Homo sapiens: one gene and its partners. The protein of the gene in region 4 purifies or fractionates together with the protein of the main gene of each other region. This does not show direct contact. Each region holds a gene or a part of one and is shown on either strand. Other genes may lie near its edges.

What was found.
Region 1: the proteins of COA5 (region 4) and SERPINB8 purify together in Homo sapiens (affinity purification with mass spectrometry; one large-scale study listed by BioGRID and IntAct). This does not show direct contact.
Region 2: the proteins of COA5 (region 4) and CRABP2 purify together in Homo sapiens (affinity purification with mass spectrometry; one large-scale study listed by BioGRID and IntAct). This does not show direct contact.
Region 3: the proteins of COA5 (region 4) and CASP14 purify together in Homo sapiens (affinity purification with mass spectrometry; one large-scale study listed by BioGRID and IntAct). This does not show direct contact.
Region 5: the proteins of COA5 (region 4) and A2ML1 purify together in Homo sapiens (affinity purification with mass spectrometry; one large-scale study listed by BioGRID and IntAct). This does not show direct contact.

The regions. Positions count from the first base shown.
Region 1 is NC_000018.10:63,980,066-63,983,588, forward strand, and holds part of SERPINB8 (serpin B8), read left to right. Parts: intron 1-1,655; coding exon 1,656-1,773; intron 1,774-3,513; coding exon 3,514-3,523. UniProt on the Homo sapiens protein: Has an important role in epithelial desmosome-mediated cell-cell adhesion.
Region 2 is NC_000001.11:156,702,784-156,706,826, reverse strand, and holds the start of CRABP2 (cellular retinoic acid-binding protein 2), read left to right. Parts: upstream 1-1,243; 5' UTR 1,244-1,380; coding exon 1,381-1,450; intron 1,451-4,043. UniProt on the Homo sapiens protein: Transports retinoic acid to the nucleus. Regulates the access of retinoic acid to the nuclear retinoic acid receptors.
Region 3 is NC_000019.10:15,055,617-15,058,796, forward strand, and holds the end of CASP14 (caspase-14 precursor), read left to right. Parts: intron 1-368; coding exon 369-473; 3' UTR 474-2,677; downstream 2,678-3,180. UniProt on the Homo sapiens protein: Non-apoptotic caspase involved in epidermal differentiation. Is the predominant caspase in epidermal stratum corneum. Seems to play a role in keratinocyte differentiation and is required for cornification.
Region 4 is NC_000002.12:98,602,157-98,605,528, reverse strand, and holds part of COA5 (cytochrome c oxidase assembly factor 5), read left to right. Parts: intron 1-1,337; coding exon 1,338-1,421; intron 1,422-3,372. UniProt on the Homo sapiens protein: Involved in an early step of the mitochondrial complex IV assembly process.
Region 5 is NC_000012.12:8,857,098-8,860,620, forward strand, and holds part of A2ML1 (alpha-2-macroglobulin-like protein 1 isoform 1 precursor), read left to right. Parts: intron 1-66; coding exon 67-243; intron 244-409; coding exon 410-491; intron 492-848; coding exon 849-1,005; intron 1,006-3,523. UniProt on the Homo sapiens protein: Is able to inhibit all four classes of proteinases by a unique 'trapping' mechanism. This protein has a peptide stretch, called the 'bait region' which contains specific cleavage sites for different proteinases.

The DNA of each region.
Region 1 (3,523 bases), on a different chromosome or scaffold from region 4:
TAGATTTTATGATGACTTCTGAATTACGTCCTTTGTAAATTGTTACTGATACACCCATCCCTGTTATCAATCCCAATATGTCAATTCTCCTGCACGCAGCCCTGCTTCTCCCCCTTAATTCCCTGTCCCTGAGTGACCACATCATTCAACACGCTGTACAGAGCTCCTCCCCAGTCCCAAGTGTGGTTATTCGGCTGCCTCCTGCTGAGGTAGCCTCTCAAATTCTCTTAAATTTGCCCGCCCTCTTCTGAATTGCACCTACAACTGACACAATCGTCTTTCTAAAATGAAAATCTGTTCATAAAATTGAGGTTTTAAATCTAAGCAGTTTCTATTTACTTCAGCATATAATTCCAAGGTTCCCTAGTCCAGCCTGGCATAATGCAATCAGTGAGGTTCAAAAATCATGCCACCTGATATGCAGGGTGATGTTGTCTTAAAATTAGTGAACTGATTGCAGCAAGCTTGGCCATCCTATTGGCTGGAGGTTCTGAGAGGACTCCTCTAAGGCTCAAATACATCCCTGTCCTGGTAGCTGCTGGGTGCTGTTCCCGGAATTTGCCTGCTCTGGGTTTATCTACCTCAGAAGGTGACTCTGGATCCCAGGAATCTCCTGATGAATCCATTTCATTTTTGAACATCAGCCTGATCTACTACTGTTGTAATACTTGGGACACAGGGAGCCAACCTCTACTTTTCCTGGTGGCTTGGCTCCTCCTTCCCTCTATATCCTCTTTCTTTGGCTGAAATTAAAATATTTGAGAACAGGGAATGGACAGAGGCTGGGAGCCAGTTTCCAGGCCTATTATATCCAAAGCCAGGTTTTTGTGAGGTAAGTTATCTGGGTTTTAATGTGTTGGGTACAGGACTTTTCTGATTGGACCCCAACTTACATTTCAAGGCTCTTCCCCTGCCACTGTTTCCCTTAATCCCCTCCCTGATACACACAAACACACATACACATGTACACACACACACAAACATGCATGCAATCCACACACATGCAGGTGCCCAAGCACTCACATGTACACATGTGCACTCATGCACACAGATGTTCACACGCATGCACACGTATGAACCCAGTTGCACACACACCCTATGATCCAGGCCTATCACGCTCCATTCCCATGGGGCCTTCCTTGCTCTGTATTCTTCCAACCAACCATATGACCCAGATCTAAAATGCTATTTCCTTCTTTGCAGTTCAACACGATTTCTTAACAATCTAGTTCCCTTATAAAGCCTCTCGTTTAACCAAAACCACAATACTGTAGTTGGTGCTGGTGATGCAAAATGAGTAAAAGTGTGTTAGACTGCCTAGTGAGGGAAGCAATATTAAAGTCAGTGGAGAGCGTTTGACAAGGATGCTCCTGTGATGTTTTGTGGATAGTGGCAGCTCATGATGTCCTGTAAGTGTCTGGGTGTCTCAGCTGCCTCTTCTCAGGCTGTGGACCTCCTCAAGCCAAGCACCTTGCCCAGTACCAGGCAAGAATAGGTGGCCCATACATTTTTGTTAATTGCACGCATGCACCTTGAAGTGGAGTGTGACCTGTCCAAGCACTTATTGTAGAAATGCAGTAAGAGAAAACAAAATGCTTTTGCATTTGTGGGAACCTTTACCAAATGAGACTAAACTCAGTGTTTTGTGTTTGCAGGACTTTAAAGAATACTGTCAGAAGTTCTATCAGGCAGAGCTGGAGGAGTTGTCCTTTGCTGAAGACACTGAAGAGTGCAGGAAGCATATAAATGACTGGGTGGCAGAGAAGACTGAAGGTGAGACAGTTTCATTTCTGTTGATTTGGAATTACTATACAACGAGGCTTAGATTGACTGGGATGGGACTTCCCAGGGTGTTGCCACTGTGACCTGCATACCACAGGCCTGTTTGTATGTGTTTGCTGAGTTTACAGGCCAGCAATGCAACTCTGTCATTTCTTATCAGATCATGAAGTACTGATTTCTAAAACTAATGTTGAATCTCTGACCTCCTCCCCTGTGGACCGTGCTGGAAAATCCCTGGAAAATGGCTCCTCCTTGGAATTCTGTTAATCTTCTATCTGAGAGGCCCTTCCATGCTCGGAGACAGAATGGCATTCAATTAAGTTGCGGCTTAGAGAGGGCAACATTTCATGCTCTCATGTTATCTCCTCCGCGTGGTAATGGGACAGCTCAGTAGTTTGATCTGCAGCCTTCTCCTTCCTTTTTAACTTGGCCATGGCTACATTTGCTCTCAGAGTGTGGCCTTTTCTGAATTTGTTCCCTATTCTGGAGGTGCAGCGACATGGAGCCTGCAGTGTTCCCTGCCCAGACCACATTCCATCCCACCAGAAATATTTCTGCCAGTTCTTTACTTCAGTAGGAAAAAGGGGGAGTCATACTTTAAAGCATCCTAAATACCTAACAAGTAATTTCGATACTTGTAAACGGTGGAGGAATTAAGTCACTTATTTCAAGGGCCAACCTAGCACTCATTATTGCATCCATTCCATCCTATGTCGCAACCACTGTGTGTCCAGCAGAAGTAATGCCCCTGATTCTACTGAAAGCCAATACAATAATTACCATGGGAAGGGAAGAGCCTTTTGTGTTTTCATACATCATCTGCCTAGTGGTCTTTCCAGTTGTTCAACAGTACTGTCACCTGAGGAACCTAGAAGTTTCTCCACACCTTCCCCCCACTGCCCTATACCTGTCACTGCTCTTCCAGGGCTGCTTATGCCCTTCCTTCCCTTAGGCTGACCACCCACATTTCCCCCAGAATATTAGAGCTGAAGGGGACCTTGGAGATGACCTTGTTACCCTCTCATTGGACAACTCAATTTGGGCCCCTCTATTCTACCCCCCTAATTCCTTTGCCCCATTCACCCCCTTCAGAGAGGCTGCCTTCTCCCATTGACAGATCTGTGTTCTCTCATCCTTTGGAAAGCTTTCCTTGTCTGATGAGGTTTGAATATATGCATAGAGCAATGATCCTCAACCAGGGGTAGCTTTGCCCTCCAGGTGCCATTGGATAATGGCTGAAGACAATCTTGGTTGTCAAAATGGGAAGAAATGCTGCTGGCTAAACATCCTACAATGCACAAGACAGCCCCCATAACAAAGAATTATCTGGCTTAAAATGACAATAGCGGTGAGGCTTGGATATGATAGTGCCAAGGTTGACTGCCCCATAGTCAGAATCAAGACTCTGGGGTGATGTTCTCAACTCAGCCACTTGTCACCTGTGTGCACTCAGCAAAAGTCTGGCAAATGCTCTGGTCCTGAATTTCTACATCCATAAATTGAGGGCAAAATGATAGTTGCCCTTCCTACTTCAAGATTTTTTTCTTAAGCACAAATGTTACACTGTGTATGCCACACTGCTAAACACCATCGCCTAATTCATCAGGGGCCCAGAAAGACAGAACTCCAGCCTGTCTCTCAACCAAGCCTCTGCCTTATGTGTCAAAGGGATTTTTGTAAAAGAATGCTTATTTCCCCACAAATTGCAATAAACTCTCATATTCTTTATAGGTAAGATTTC
Region 2 (4,043 bases), on a different chromosome or scaffold from region 4:
CGGGCCGAAGGCCCCCCCGCGTTGGACAGGCCGGGACGGTTCCTTTGGCTCCAATCACTGCATCCCGCCAGGCTTCGCTCCTCTGCGGTTTCCGGCCTCGGGTCCCAGGCCTGTCCCCGAGGCTCCCCGCCTGACCTCCGTTTCTGTTTCTCCGTCTCCCTGCCATCTCCACTGGGGTCTCGCCCACTCCCACTCGGGTCTCTGCAGGAAGCCGTGCCCTCCTCCCACCCTCTTTGATCTCCCGTTTCAAAGCCGCTCTCCAAGGGAGGGGAGGTCGCTCCTTCCGCCCGTTTTACAGCTCAGGATGGTGACACCTGAGACCCTGCTCCGCCTTCTCCCCCGGCACCCATCCTCCCGCCTATCTAGGTGGTGGCGCAGCTCGCCAGGGCTCCGCGCCTCTGTCCCCGCCTCCCTCCCTTCCCCCTACTGAGACCCCCTCGGGGTCTCGGGAGTGAAGCGACAGAGAAAGCGTTTTAATAAAGACCTTGCGTCAAGTGATTGGCTGTGACCTCTGCCCTCCCAGCCTCGCGCCCTGGGCTCCTGCTTAACCCTTCAATGTCCGCCCAGCGCATTAAGGGGAGCGAGTCGCCTGGCGACTACTTCCAGAGTCCCCAGGCATTACGTGAGCCCGAAGCAGGGTGGAGGGGTGGGGGGACCGTGCCGCCCCCGCCCAGCCTCTCCGAGTTGTTCCAGCAGGGGGCGCCGTTGCCTCACTTAGATCCCTAACCCCCGGAACCCCGCAGCTCCCAAGCCCCTCTCTGAGTACGGAGTGGTCCCACTGGATCCAGTTCAGGGTTCAATGGAGCTAGGGCCAGCTACGGCTCAAGATCTGGGGTCCGCCTGCGGGTGGGGTCGCCAGGTGTCCGGCACCAAGGAGTTGAATGCACCGAGTCAGGTTGGGGATGGGTGGGGAACAGGCGAGACGTGAGGAACTCGGGTGGGGGACAGCCATACACGAGCCCTGAGCATCTGCGCCCGCAGCTAGCTCCCCCCGCCTCTGCGGAGAGCGCGATTCAAGTGCTGGCTTTGCGTCCGCTTCCCCATCCACTTACTAGCGCAGGAGAAGGCTATCTCGGTCCCCAGAGAAGCCTGGACCCACACGCGGGCTAGATCCAGAGGTTGGTGGCGGGGGCGCAGGGCCCCCCAGGTGGGGGGGGGCGGAGCGGGAGGCGGGGCCACTTCAATCCTGGGCAGGGGCGGTTCCGTACAGGGTATAAAAGCTGTCCGCGCGGGAGCCCAGGCCAGCTTTGGGGTTGTCCCTGGACTTGTCTTGGTTCCAGAACCTGACGACCCGGCGACGGCGACGTCTCTTTTGACTAAAAGACAGTGTCCAGTGCTCCAGCCTAGGAGTCTACGGGGACCGCCTCCCGCGCCGCCACCATGCCCAACTTCTCTGGCAACTGGAAAATCATCCGATCGGAAAACTTCGAGGAATTGCTCAAAGTGCTGGGTAAGGAAATGTTCGAGGGCCCAGGTGGGGCAAGGGGGGGCTCTGGAGTCCTCGAAGTTGGGGATGAGAAAGACAGCGGGACCACAATCAGGGCGTGAGACACTGGGTGCCTGCATCCCCGAAAAACGTGCCAGGCGTCCGGGTCCCGGGGCTCTGGGCACGACGCCTAAATCCCGCTTTCTCCTGCGGGGGCCCACCGGTGCCAACACTGCGGTGACTCACGGCCTGTGAATCACGTAGAAACCAGAAGCGCGAGGTTGGCCTCTGGGGGAAGGGGAGGCTGGCCTCAGCGGCCGGACTCGGCGGGCCGAGGCACCTGGCTCTCTGCAGTTCAGAAGCTGCGGGCTGGTGGAGCCACGAACCCTGCATCCAGACTGGGAGCCCGGTTCCCTACCCTGCCCAGCCGCTCGGAGACATTCCAATCTCCTTCCCGGTGCCCCCCTCGGTAACCCAATCCCCAGGGCAGGCTCATTACCCCTCGGCGCCCAGCTCTGCCTGCGAGGTGATCTGCTGCCCCAGCGCCCCCTGAGCCCCACTTTCCTCCCCCTCTGCACTTTCCACTCTGCTCTCCCCACCCCCCATCTGTGAGACAAGTATTTTCATACAGCGAGCAGCTCCAGAGTTCTAAAATCGCTAGGGATAATTATCACTTTCTTGGATTTCAACAAATGGTTTCGTGTGAAACCCCAATCCCACATTTCCAAAAATCTAGGTTCCCACCTACCTCCCCCGACCATAGATCGGCTGCAGCCCAATTGGGTGTGTTGGTCAAAGGTGGGGAAAACTAAGTCAATCCAGACTGCCTTTCCCACTTTTCCAGCCCACCTTCTGTGTGCCCTCTGGGCCAACTGGGCTAGACATCTGGGGCAGGGGAGAGTGCCAGGACCTGGTGACTGGGAGAGGACTCTGGGGGAGAGATGGACGTTAGTTAAGGACCCCAGCCACTGGGAGCGTAAGGGCAGGCCTGCTGCCTTCAATTCCTGCACTCAACAGAGAGACGGTAGTTCGGCTGGGTTGGGCGAGAGGGGAGGGAGGGAAGGCACCCCTCTCCCTGGACTATAGGAGTGAGTCTGGATCTAAGACAGGTCTGGAATGCTGCAGAGAGAGCAGGGATCTCCATCAGTCCTTGCCGTTAGTTCTTCCTGCGATCTAACCACAATACTTCTTGGAGTCATATCAGTCTTTCTTGCTCTGTCCTTGCTAAACTTAAAGACAAAAAGAAATTTTCTCTTTGGAAAGCCTAGATGCCACTCCCTCCTCATCTTCTCTGGATTCTGGCCCCTGTCCTCAGTGGATGAGGTGGTGGTCTGGTACACCCCCAGGCCCCAGCTGAAGAGTAAGATTCAAGGCCCCAATCCTGCTGTCTGTCTTCAGTCTGTTTGTCCTCCCTGCAGGGTCTCTCTGAGCCACGTGCCCTCCTCAGGCCCTGCAGGGGGCAGATTAAAAACAGATCCATTAGACAAACACAGTCCTGAGCCAGCTAAGGCCGGCTAAGCTGGGCCCTCAGCTCCACAGGCACCAGGGGCTCGCTGAAAGGATGTCTCCTCTGAACCCAGCCTTGCCTCTGCAGGAACTTCGGTCCTGGCACACCCCTCTTAGCTCTAGTCAAGGGTCCATCTCAATAAGACTTGGGGACCTGTCATTTCTTCCTAGACACAAGAGTTCAGCAGCCAACAATGGGGGTCCTGGGCTCCCCAGGGGCAAGGCTTCCTCTCTCCCTCTCTCTTCTGTTTGCAGTAGGGTAGGTATGCTTTGGCACTGAGGGGAAAGAGGATTTGTTTCTCTAGGAACCCAGGTCTGGAGGAGGTCCAGGGAGTTGGCCAGATCAGGGGCAGGGAAATCCTGCTACCTGGCAGAGGGCCCTTTCACCCCCGCCTAGTGCATCCCTGGCTCTACTCCAGGACAGGGCGGCAGATCAGGCCAGGTGAGGTGGGTGTGTGGAGCTTAGACCTGGAGCCCATCCAGAGAGGCCCCCTGCTCTGCACGTCTTCCTTTCAGAGGGGTGCTGTCTCCTATCTCCCCCACTTCGGTTAATAACTGGGGAGCAGAGAGAAGGGGTCCAATCTGGGCTGGGATATGGAGGTGCACAGAGAGTCTGAATCCACGAGGCTGAATGAGATAGCCGGACCCTGTGAGGGGAGTGGGGGGTCCTGAAGAAGGGGATACATCACACAGAGCGGGGAGGGCAGTCTCCTTTTCTATTCCTTCTTCTCACAGCAGAGGGGGTTCCCTTGAGGGGACAGGGGTATGGGAGTCTTCCAGAAGGGCAGATGAGTACGGTGCCTAATGCAGAGAGCTTTGAGCCCCAGCTTTTTGCTTTCCTTTTTTTTTTTTTTTTTTTTTTTAGTGGTAGGGTCTCACTGTGTTGCCCAATCTAGTCTCAAACTTCTGGGCTTAAGCAGTCCTGCTGCCTCGGCCTCCCAAAGTGCTGGGATTACAGGCATGAGCCATGGCACCTGACCCTTTGCCTTCCTTTTATCAGTAAAAATAATACCAACAATCATAGCTATTGTTTCCTGAAAACTTAAGCATATGCCTGGCACTGTGTGTGCTAAGTCCTAAACACATACCATCCCAATTGGCTTTTTTTTTT
Region 3 (3,180 bases), on a different chromosome or scaffold from region 4:
CTCCATTTCCCTCAGCTCCAAATCCAAGCCAGATCTCAATACAGAAACTAAGAAGCCCACTTTCCAACAACTTTCCCAAATGCAGGGACTCTTAAAAGCCACAGTATGGGAGATAAATTTCTATAAACAAATCCCCCTTGGATATAAACAATGTTTGGGCAAACTGTTTTCTTTTAATGTTTATATGTTTTTATTGCAAATTATTTAAAAAATGCCCAGCCAAGGATTCCATACAAACTATGGTATAGGAAGAGGCCACAACGGTCTCTCATCTTAGGACAAGAATACCCACCTGCCCCGTTCCCTAACCCTCCCCCCATAAGTCCATGACACTGACTCCTCCAAGCTCACCACACCTGTTGCTGCAGGTGACCCGGCGGATGGCAGAAGCAGAGCTGGTTCAAGAAGGAAAAGCAAGGAAAACGAACCCTGAAATCCAAAGCACCCTCCGGAAACGGCTGTATCTGCAGTAGAAGTAGAAAGACCAGGAGGAGCTTTCCTTCCAGCATTCTTTCTGTCTCACAGAAATTTAGAGGCAGCTCTTACCTCTCCCCAAGATCTTCTGTTCCCAAGGCCAAATGGCACCCAGTTTCTTTTCCATCACACCCTTCATGCAGGTCCTCCTGTCCTTATTAGAGCAAGCCAGCCAAAACTTAGCACAAGGCATGGTGGCAACATTAACATCACCTCCCTCAGGCTGGACTTTCTATCTTTATTAATGCAACCGAAGAGACCTAAGAGTGCATTCACTTATCCCACTTTCTGTTCCTGTGGTCTTCTTTCTCCCATGAAGCAGAAACTGGATAAAGCTCAAGATTTTCCATAGACAAACCAAAGCCCACTCATCCCCTCCTACCCCAATCCAACCTCTGCTGGCTCCTGCATCTCACTTGGAGGTCAAACCTCCTCCTGAGGCCAATGCATTCCCAACTTCCAGTTCTTTCCTTTACCCTGGAGAGTTAGTAAGGTAAGAACCATTCTTTCTCTCCAAAACCACTCCTCCTTGGCTGGCAAGTTGGTGTCCTAACTCCGTTCTCTTCCTAGCTCATGGCCTCTCTAGATAATAAAGTTGTCTCCTCCTTTCTGGATCTCTTCCTCCTAACACCCCTCCCCTGAAACCCTGGACTCTGCCCTCTCTCCAAGAAAATCCATCTATTCAACTATTCTTGCATTCAATTACTCTAAATGAGAGCGTGTTGGAGCTATGGCAAATTCCCTGTTGTCACCTTGCTATTTTGCAGACAACATAATATTTAACCTCTCATAACCAGAGAGGTTAAATAATTTGTCAAATGCAATACAGTAAGACAGAGGCAAGGACAAGGTTTGACTTCCAGCCCAGCCTCTTTTCCACAACCTGCTAAATCCTGATCCATCTGAAAACTTTTCTAATTAGTGAAGATGACTAATAAAAATTTTCCCTATCTCCAAGGTAGGAGCTTTCTGGAAGTTTCTAGAAATTTTCAATAACCACCAGCCAAGGTTACCTCCAGGTAACCTTGCAGCACCAGGCTGGAAGTCAGATCGGCTTCACTATCTTCCAACTCTACAGCCTGTATCTCTCCATCCCCAGCTTTGACCTTTCCTGCTCAAGTAACCTACGGGCACATCCAGCGTCACTAAAAACTCAGGGCTTTTCTTCCCGGTTACTCCTCCAAGCGTTCCCTGGTATCCTCAACCTCAGATCCCAGGTTCAGATTTCTGCAGTCAATCTATGACCCCTCTCTTCTTGCATCCTTCATATGCCACCAGACACCATGCCCAGTCCAGCCTGATTTTGAAACAACTTTCATGCCGGTCTTCTCTTCCCTGACATGTTACTGTCCAGGCTCAAGTCCTCAGCTTCTCATATCTGCATCTTTGCAACCAACTTCCTCCCTTGCCTCTCTGCTTTTCCATCCCACTTTTCATGTGTCCTCCATACCATCTATAACAGTGATCTCCCTGGAACACTCAAGAAGACACAACATACCATATTATTTAAAGACCAGGGTACTGGACAGTGGCTCACACCTGTATTCCCGACTTTGAGAGTCTGAAGCGGGAGGATCACTTGAGGCCAGGAGTTAAGAGACCAGCCTGGGCAACACAGCAAGACCCTGTCTCTAAAAAAAAAAATTAATTAACTGGGTATGGTGGCACATGCCTGTAGTCCCAGCTACTCAGGAGGCTGAGGTGGGAGGATGACTTGAGCCCAGGAGTTTGAGGCTGCAAGGAGCTATGATCATGCCAGTGCATCCCAGCTCTAGGTGAGACAGTGAGATCCGGTCTCCAAAATAAATCAATCAATCAAATAAAGACCAAAGTCAAACCGCACATCAGGATCTCTCACACCCTTCCAATTTTGCCATCTACCAGCACTTAGCTAAACCCATCTCCCATCTCTTCCACCATGAATTCACTCTTTCAAAAAGGCTAATGTCTTCTTACTCACCCTTGCCTCTAAGCCTTTGCTATCACCATTTCCCCCAAGCTGGAGGGCCCTCCCTCTCCCTTTACCCCTCTTCCACTACCTCCCACCCCTACTTTTTCCAGAAAGCCATTTCCTCTCTTTTTTCTGATTGATCCTTCCCTCTCACCCAGGATTAGATGCTGGAAATGACCACTTCTGGAGGGCAGGGAACAAGCCCTTAATCTGCATAATGAGTGTTCAATAAACAGTTGTCAAACTTTGAAAGAAAGTGTTGAAATCTTTGTTCTGTGCTGAAACAGTGAGGCTGATACAAAAGGAGTTATGGATTTAATTTCTTTTTTCCCAGTGGCTGGCTTCCTCCCAGGTGTGTCTATCATGAATGGAGAATCAGGAGCTTCAGCCTGTGTCTTCTTTCCTTTTTTTTTTCTTTAAGAGATGAGATCTTGCTCTGCCACCCAGGCTGGAGTACAGTGGCACCATCATAGCTCACTGCACCCTCGACCTCCTGGGCTCAAGCAATCCTCCCACCTCAGCCTCTCATGTAGCTGGGACTACAGGTGTGCATCACCACACCTGGCTAATTTTCTTATTTTTCGGTAGAGATTGGGTCTTGCTATGTTGCCGAGGCTGGTCTCACAGTCCTGGTCTCAAGCAATCCTCTTGCCTTGGCCTCCCAAAGTGCTGAGATTACAGATGTGACCCACCACACCGAGCTCCTGTCTCTTTCACAAAAACAGACGTGTTGGGAATTTGTAAAGTTACAGGCC
Region 4 (3,372 bases):
GTCCTTGTGCCTATAATCAGGGCCTAGTCATTTCCCTCAGTCTTCCATGAACGCAGACACTGTTGATCTTGTGACTCTGTGCTGTGAAAATAGGAAAATATAGCAAGTAGGGTGTTACTCTCATATTCATGGTCCAAGACTGGTTTGCTTCCACATCATCAGGCCCGGCAACCTTATGGAGTGAAGTGAGGAAAGGGGCAAGCCTCTTTAAGGACCAACCCAGAAGTTCTACACCTGTTTCCCACACATTCCAGTGGCTAGAACTTAGTCACAGGACCACAGCTAGATGCAAGGGCGTCTAGGAGATCTCACCCAGCCATATGCTGGATAAAAAGGAAGAGCAGACAGCTAGCAGTCTGTTATTTGGGGTGGAGTGGATAACGAATGACTGTCTCTTAGCTTTAGTGTATCTAGATGGATCTTTACCCCAGGCAGTTGACAATATAGGTTGAAAGCTTTTGAAAAAGGTAGCATCTTAGATACAGTTTGAAGAGGCATCAGCTTATAAACTATAGTTATAACCTTTTATATGGTTAGTCTTCTTTTGTCTGCCTCCACGTCGTTCATGTGGGCAACACATCCCACCAGCAGAATTGCAGAGTTTGGAGAGGAAGGAAACCTGCTACTCTTATCCACTTTTGAGAGTCACTGAGGTAGATGACATTTGATATCTAGGACCCAGGCAGACATACAGACTGGAAGGTGGCCAAGACTCCTGGGGAACAGGAATACCACAGACATAGTACCCTGTAGCTTTTCATAGGAAAAACTGGCAGAGCGTGCCTGGCACTTGCAACATAAAGGTTCTGGGGAGTGGCTGCAGTGATGCGGCTGTAGAGTCAAAATCTGCTTGAGGGAAAATCCCTGATTATGCAGAGCAGATGAGCTTTGGGTTATATTTTTTCTGGTGCATGAATGGGCCACATGTTTCTATTTAAGTAGTATTCCAGCCTGCCTTGTTAATATCTTTGTGAAGTGTTTCGTGCCAACACTAAAAATATTCTGATTTTAGGGTACCCAGTTCACACATTTCACCCATAAGGAAATGAAGATAACCCTTTCTAGATTTTTATATAAACAGTTTAAGGAAAAGTATCCAATAGAAACCAGTGTTTTCAAGAATTCAACAGTGTCCTTAAAGTTCCCAAGTTACTTTACAATTTTTTTTTCATTCTTTAGGCACCAATAGCCCAAATGAATTAAGAACTATTTCCTACATAACTTTCTATTTTCCTCCTTTAACACTTTTAAAAAGGACTATTTTCAGAAGGACAATTATTTTGTACTTTGTGAGAAAATTTCCAAGGTGTTTATATTGTTTTATGTGTCTGTCATAGGAAGGAAAATCACCTCGGCAGTGTTTGAAGGAAGGATACTGCAACTCTTTGAAGTACGCATTTTTTGAGTGTAAAAGATCAGTGGTAAGTGGTTAAAGATTTTTAAAAGCCTATGCTAAAAATTAGCTATAGGGAGGTTAAATATATGAATGACTTAATAGTTATAGGTAAGTTGCAGTGATATGGTTTGGAAAAAATTACATAGATAATATTTCTTCCTCCAGTGAGTTAACGTTAGGTAGCGTTCATAAAAACCCACAGCTCATTGTTATGTTCTTCTGTCACCGTGCTAACTACAGCTGCTGAACTTCATGCATTTCTGAAAGTGTGAGAATGAAGTCTCGGCAGGTATATACGGGTAAAAGTTGATGTTGGCCACTCGAGTTCAGATCAGTTGGCAATTGTATACAAACATATAATGTGGAGCTCCAAGGTGTATACATTTGTGCCTTATGTGACTAAGAGAAAATGTCAGTATCTGTGTTTGAATTTTGGAGGGATGGATTGTAGAAATAGGGCCTAAAAAGAGATTACAAATCTCTGGGGTTCATTCTAACATTCTTTGATTTGGAAGATGTATGGAGATCTTTGGAATGGAAACTGAGACCCTTTTCTTGGAGAAATGTATAAAACCAAAAATATGAGCATCCCATTAAAGGAAGAAAGCACTTGGACTTGAGGATGTTTTTTTTTTGTTTTTTGTTTTTTGTTTGAGACGGAGTCTCACTTTGTCACCAGGCTGGAGTGCAGTGGCGCAATCTCAGATCACTGCAACCTCTGCCTCCTGGGTTCAAGAGATTCTCCTGCCTCAGCCTCCTGAGTAGCTGGGATTACAGGCGCCTGCCACTGTGCCCAGCTAATTTTTGTATTTTTTTAGTAGAGATGGGATTTCACCATGTTGGCCAGGCTGGTCTTGAACTCCTGACCTCAGGTGATCTGCCTGCCTCGGCTTCCCAAAGTGCTGGGATTACAGGAGTGAGCCACCACACCTGGCCTTGAGCATGCTTTTGTTTGCTTAGGAACTACACTGCAAATCCCTTCCTTTTTGTTAACAAAAGAAATGGAGGGTACTGATACTTACGACCTGCAAGTGGTTGTAAACAAAGAACTTGGAGCATGTTTGCCAGCTAATCAGATCCAGGGAGGGTGTAAAGTTAGATTAAATTTGGCCCTGCTCTGTTTACTTTCTTAAGTGACATCTTTTCCTGTCATTCAGTGTGAATAGAGGAGGATTTTCTTGCCTTCTCTCACATAGATTTGTTACCCATGTAAAATGCAAACCTTTAACTTTGTCAAGAATTTCAAAGCGTGTGCAGTAAACCCTCTGAAATTCTCTACCTAAAGCTCAGTCTTCGATCTCCAAAGAACGAAGTCAGATTTTTTTTTATTTTTACAATTTATCTACTTTCAGCAGAAATTTTTAACAATCTTACATAAAAAGTAAAATGATCTTACCATTTCTAAATATCAGTACAAGGCAGAGTTTCACATATACTTTGACACTGAGAAGAGCACCTTAGGGACCCTTTTTTTTTTTTTTTTTGAGATGGAGTCTCGCTCTGTTGCCCGGGCTGGAGTGCAGTAGTGTGATCTTGGCTCGCTGCAACCTCTGCGTCCTGGGTTCAAGTGATTCTCGTGCTTCAGCCTCCCGAGTAGCTGGGACTACAGGCAGCTGCCACCATGCCCAGCTAAGTTTTATATTTTTAGTAGAGATGGGGTTTCGCCATGTTGGCCAGGCTGGTCTCAAACTCCTGATCCACCCACCTCTCCCTCCCAGAGTGCTGGGATTACAGGCATGAGCCATTAACACCCGACCAGCTTAGGGACCTTTTTATAATCTTTCTCCAAGACCATGTTTTACTGTTAGTCCTCCAAAATGAGTAGAGTCATATCGCTGTTAATGCAACTTGTTATACATGCTTGGCAAAAAACCCAGAAATATAAACATTTAAATTGTGTGGGTAATTTTGTATGCTATTAAAGTGAGTGTGCATCTTATTGAAGGTGAGATGGGAAGTTTGAATCTGCTGTTCTC
Region 5 (3,523 bases), on a different chromosome or scaffold from region 4:
TGATAACTCTTAGAGGGTCCCTTCTTCTCTGTACCCCTACCTTCTCTCTCTCCTTTTGGATCCCAGGAGACATTATGGGCACAGCCCTGCAGAACCTGGATGGTCTGGTGCAGATGCCCAGTGGCTGTGGCGAGCAGAACATGGTCTTGTTTGCTCCCATCATCTATGTCTTGCAGTACCTGGAGAAGGCAGGGCTGCTGACGGAGGAGATCAGGTCTCGGGCAGTGGGTTTCCTGGAAATAGGTAAGTTGGTTCAGTCTTTCTTTCTTGAACACTCTCCTCCACTAGGCCCTATGACAGATTGATGATACAGGGAATTCCAGCCCCTCAAGTGTCCCATATCCTTGAACGGCATGGGGGTGTTTTCTGAAGTTGTCGCTGTGATCTAAAACCACATTTGGCTTCCCAGGGTACCAGAAGGAGCTGATGTACAAACACAGCAATGGCTCATACAGTGCCTTTGGGGAGCGAGATGGAAATGGAAACACATGGTAATATCACCCAATTCCCAATGAGTTCTGTACTCCAGAGCATAATTCCTGAGCCCTCTGGAACTATTCCACTACCTCTCCCCTTAACCCCTTTCCTTCTTGCACTCAGTCTTCTACCTCTTTAATACTGTTTATTTCACCCTCATGGATGGTCAAGTCCCTCGATCTTCCTGAGCTTGTGCCTCCCCTGTTCTTGTCCTCATTGGTGCCCATTAATGCCTCTCTTTTCTAGGCCTGCTATGGCATATGTTCCCTCAGCTCCCCTTCTGGAAGTATACACCCAAATAAATGAAGAAATGATTGCACCCTCACCTGGAAATTCCTCTTCATGCCATATTTTCCTCTTTACCCATGTAGGCTGACAGCGTTTGTCACAAAATGCTTTGGCCAAGCTCAGAAATTCATCTTCATTGATCCCAAGAACATCCAGGATGCTCTCAAGTGGATGGCAGGAAACCAGCTCCCCAGTGGCTGCTATGCCAACGTGGGAAATCTCCTTCACACAGCTATGAAGGTGCGGATCTGTCCAGGAGCCTGCAGCCAACCACTGTCTCGAAGGACCCCACACCTCTGACCGAGTAGAAGCAAAAGAGCACTGGCCTGGGAATCAGTTTTCTCCTGATCTCCACTGTGGCTCTGGGTGACCGTGATCAAAATGCTTAGCTGGTCTGGGCCTCAGTTTTCATGTCTGTAGAATGAGAATACAGATGAAGCCTGGGTGCAGTGGCTCATGCCTGTAATCCCAGCACTTTGGGAGGCCGAGGCGGGCAGATCGTTTGGGCCCAGGAGTTTGAGACCACCCTGGGCAACATGGTGAAACCCCATCTCTACAAAAAAAATATGAAAAATTAATCAGGCTTGTTAGTGCATGCCTGTAGTCCCAGCTACTTGGGTGGTTGAGGTTGGAGGATCACTTGAACCCAGGAGGTCAAGCCTGCAGTGAGCCGTGATTGCACCACTGCACCCCAACCTGGGTGACCGAGTGAGACCCTGCCTCAAAAAGAAAAAGAGAATGTGGACTGGAACATGGTTCTCAAAGCATAGTTCCCAGATCAGGAGCATTGGCATCACATGGGAACTTGTTGGAAACGCAGATTCTGACTCCCAGCCCACACCTACTGAATGAGAAACTCTGGGAGGGTGGGCCAGAAATTTGTGTTTTGACAAGCCCTCCTGATTATTCTGATACACACTGAAATTTGATACTACTGGACTAAAAGATCTCTGGGCCTCTTACTGTGTCACCAAATCCATCTGGGAAAGCCATTTCCTGTGGTGAGGACTAGTAGGCAGCCCAACGTCTTTTGTAAGAAGTTTACTCTATTGGGCACTATTCTAGGCACGTGGTTTATTTGATATTATTTCATGTTTACAACAAATCAATGAGCTAGGTATTGGTATGCCATTATTAATCCCATTTTACAGATGAAGAAACTAAGCCATGGAGACTAAGTAAATTGCCCAAGGTGCATGCTAATAAGTGGCAGGACTGAGATTTGAACCAGGCAGTTGCACTCCAGAGGCACTGCTTTCTTCTGTTCACTACCTTGTCTGTACCTGTCCCAAGCAGAGGGCGAGGCGTAGATCCTGCAGGATAACTTGTTCAATTCAGGACACACTCAGTGCAAGAAAGACTTGTATAAACTTTTCTAGAGAGATCACTTACATTGCTATTCCAGGGCAAGGATTAAAAATCTTGAGTGTTAAAAAAAAAATCTATTTATAGGATTCATTAGTCTTCCTCTGCAGGATCTTATTAGTCTCCCCTAAGTTTTTGTCTTCTTCTTCTCTTATACACTGTATGAAATATGCGTGGGGGCCAGGCGCAGTGGCTCATGCTTGTAATCCCAGCATTCTGGGAGGCTGAGGCGAGTGGATCATGAGGTCAGGAATTAGAGACCAGTCTGAAACCCTGTCTCTACTAAGATAAAGGACTTGACTAGAGCAAGATCTCAGAGGTATTCTTCCTTCTTTCCCTTTTTTTTCTTTTCTTTTTTTCTTGAGACAAGAGTCTTACTCTGTTGTACAGGCTGGAGTGTAGTTGCGCAATCCCAGCTCACTGCAACCTCTACCTCCTGGGTTCAAGTGATCTCAGCCTCCTGAGCAGCTGGGACTACAGGCATGTGCCACCATGCCTGGCTACTTTTTGTATTTTTAGTAGAGATGGGGTTTCACCATGTTTGGCCAGGCTGGTCTTGAACTCCTGGCCTCAAGTGATCCACCCGCCTTGACCTCCCAAAGTGCTGGGATTACAAGCGTGACCTATGCGTGCCCAGCCTCTTCCTACTTTCTTTTGAGAGCAGGCCAGTCCATTGAGAAATCCATCCTCTGTGTAGCCAAGGTTAGTGGTGTGGCACATGAGCTCCAGAGTTAAATGTCCTGGGTTCAAATTCCAGTCCTGCTGCAGATGAGCCATGTAACCGTGAGCAAGCTATTTAATCTTTTTATTTATTTACTTATTCATTTTTTTGAGACAGGGTCTCACTCTGTCACCCAGGCTGAAGTGCAGTGGCACGATCATGGCTCACTGCAGCCTTGACCTCCCCGGGCTCAGATGATCCTCCTACTTTAGCTTCCTGAATAGCTGGGACCACGGATCCACGTGCCACTACACCTGGCTAATTTTTGCAGGTTTTGTAGAGTTGGGGTTTTACCGTGTTGCCCAGGCTGGCCTCAAACTCCTGAGCTCAAGCGATCCTCCCCACCGACTTGGCCTCAAGCTGGGATAATAGGCATAAACCACTGTGCGTGACCACAAGCTATTTAATCTTGTTAAGTGTTTGTTTTCTTATTTATAGAATGAGGATAATAATTTGAGTAGATATTTTTAAAAATTTGCTTAGCTCTTTCTGGGAAAGGCGATAAGCAGGGAAGGTCTCACCTAATCTCTGCTGGAGAAGGGCTGGGTATTGTGCTGCTTGAGGGGAGCTGCATGTGAGGAGGCTCAGATGCGGTGATGCGGCAGATTCTCTCCTTATTCCTCCCTTCTTTAAAGCTCTTACCCTTCCTAACTCCTTCTCTTGGGTTTCTTA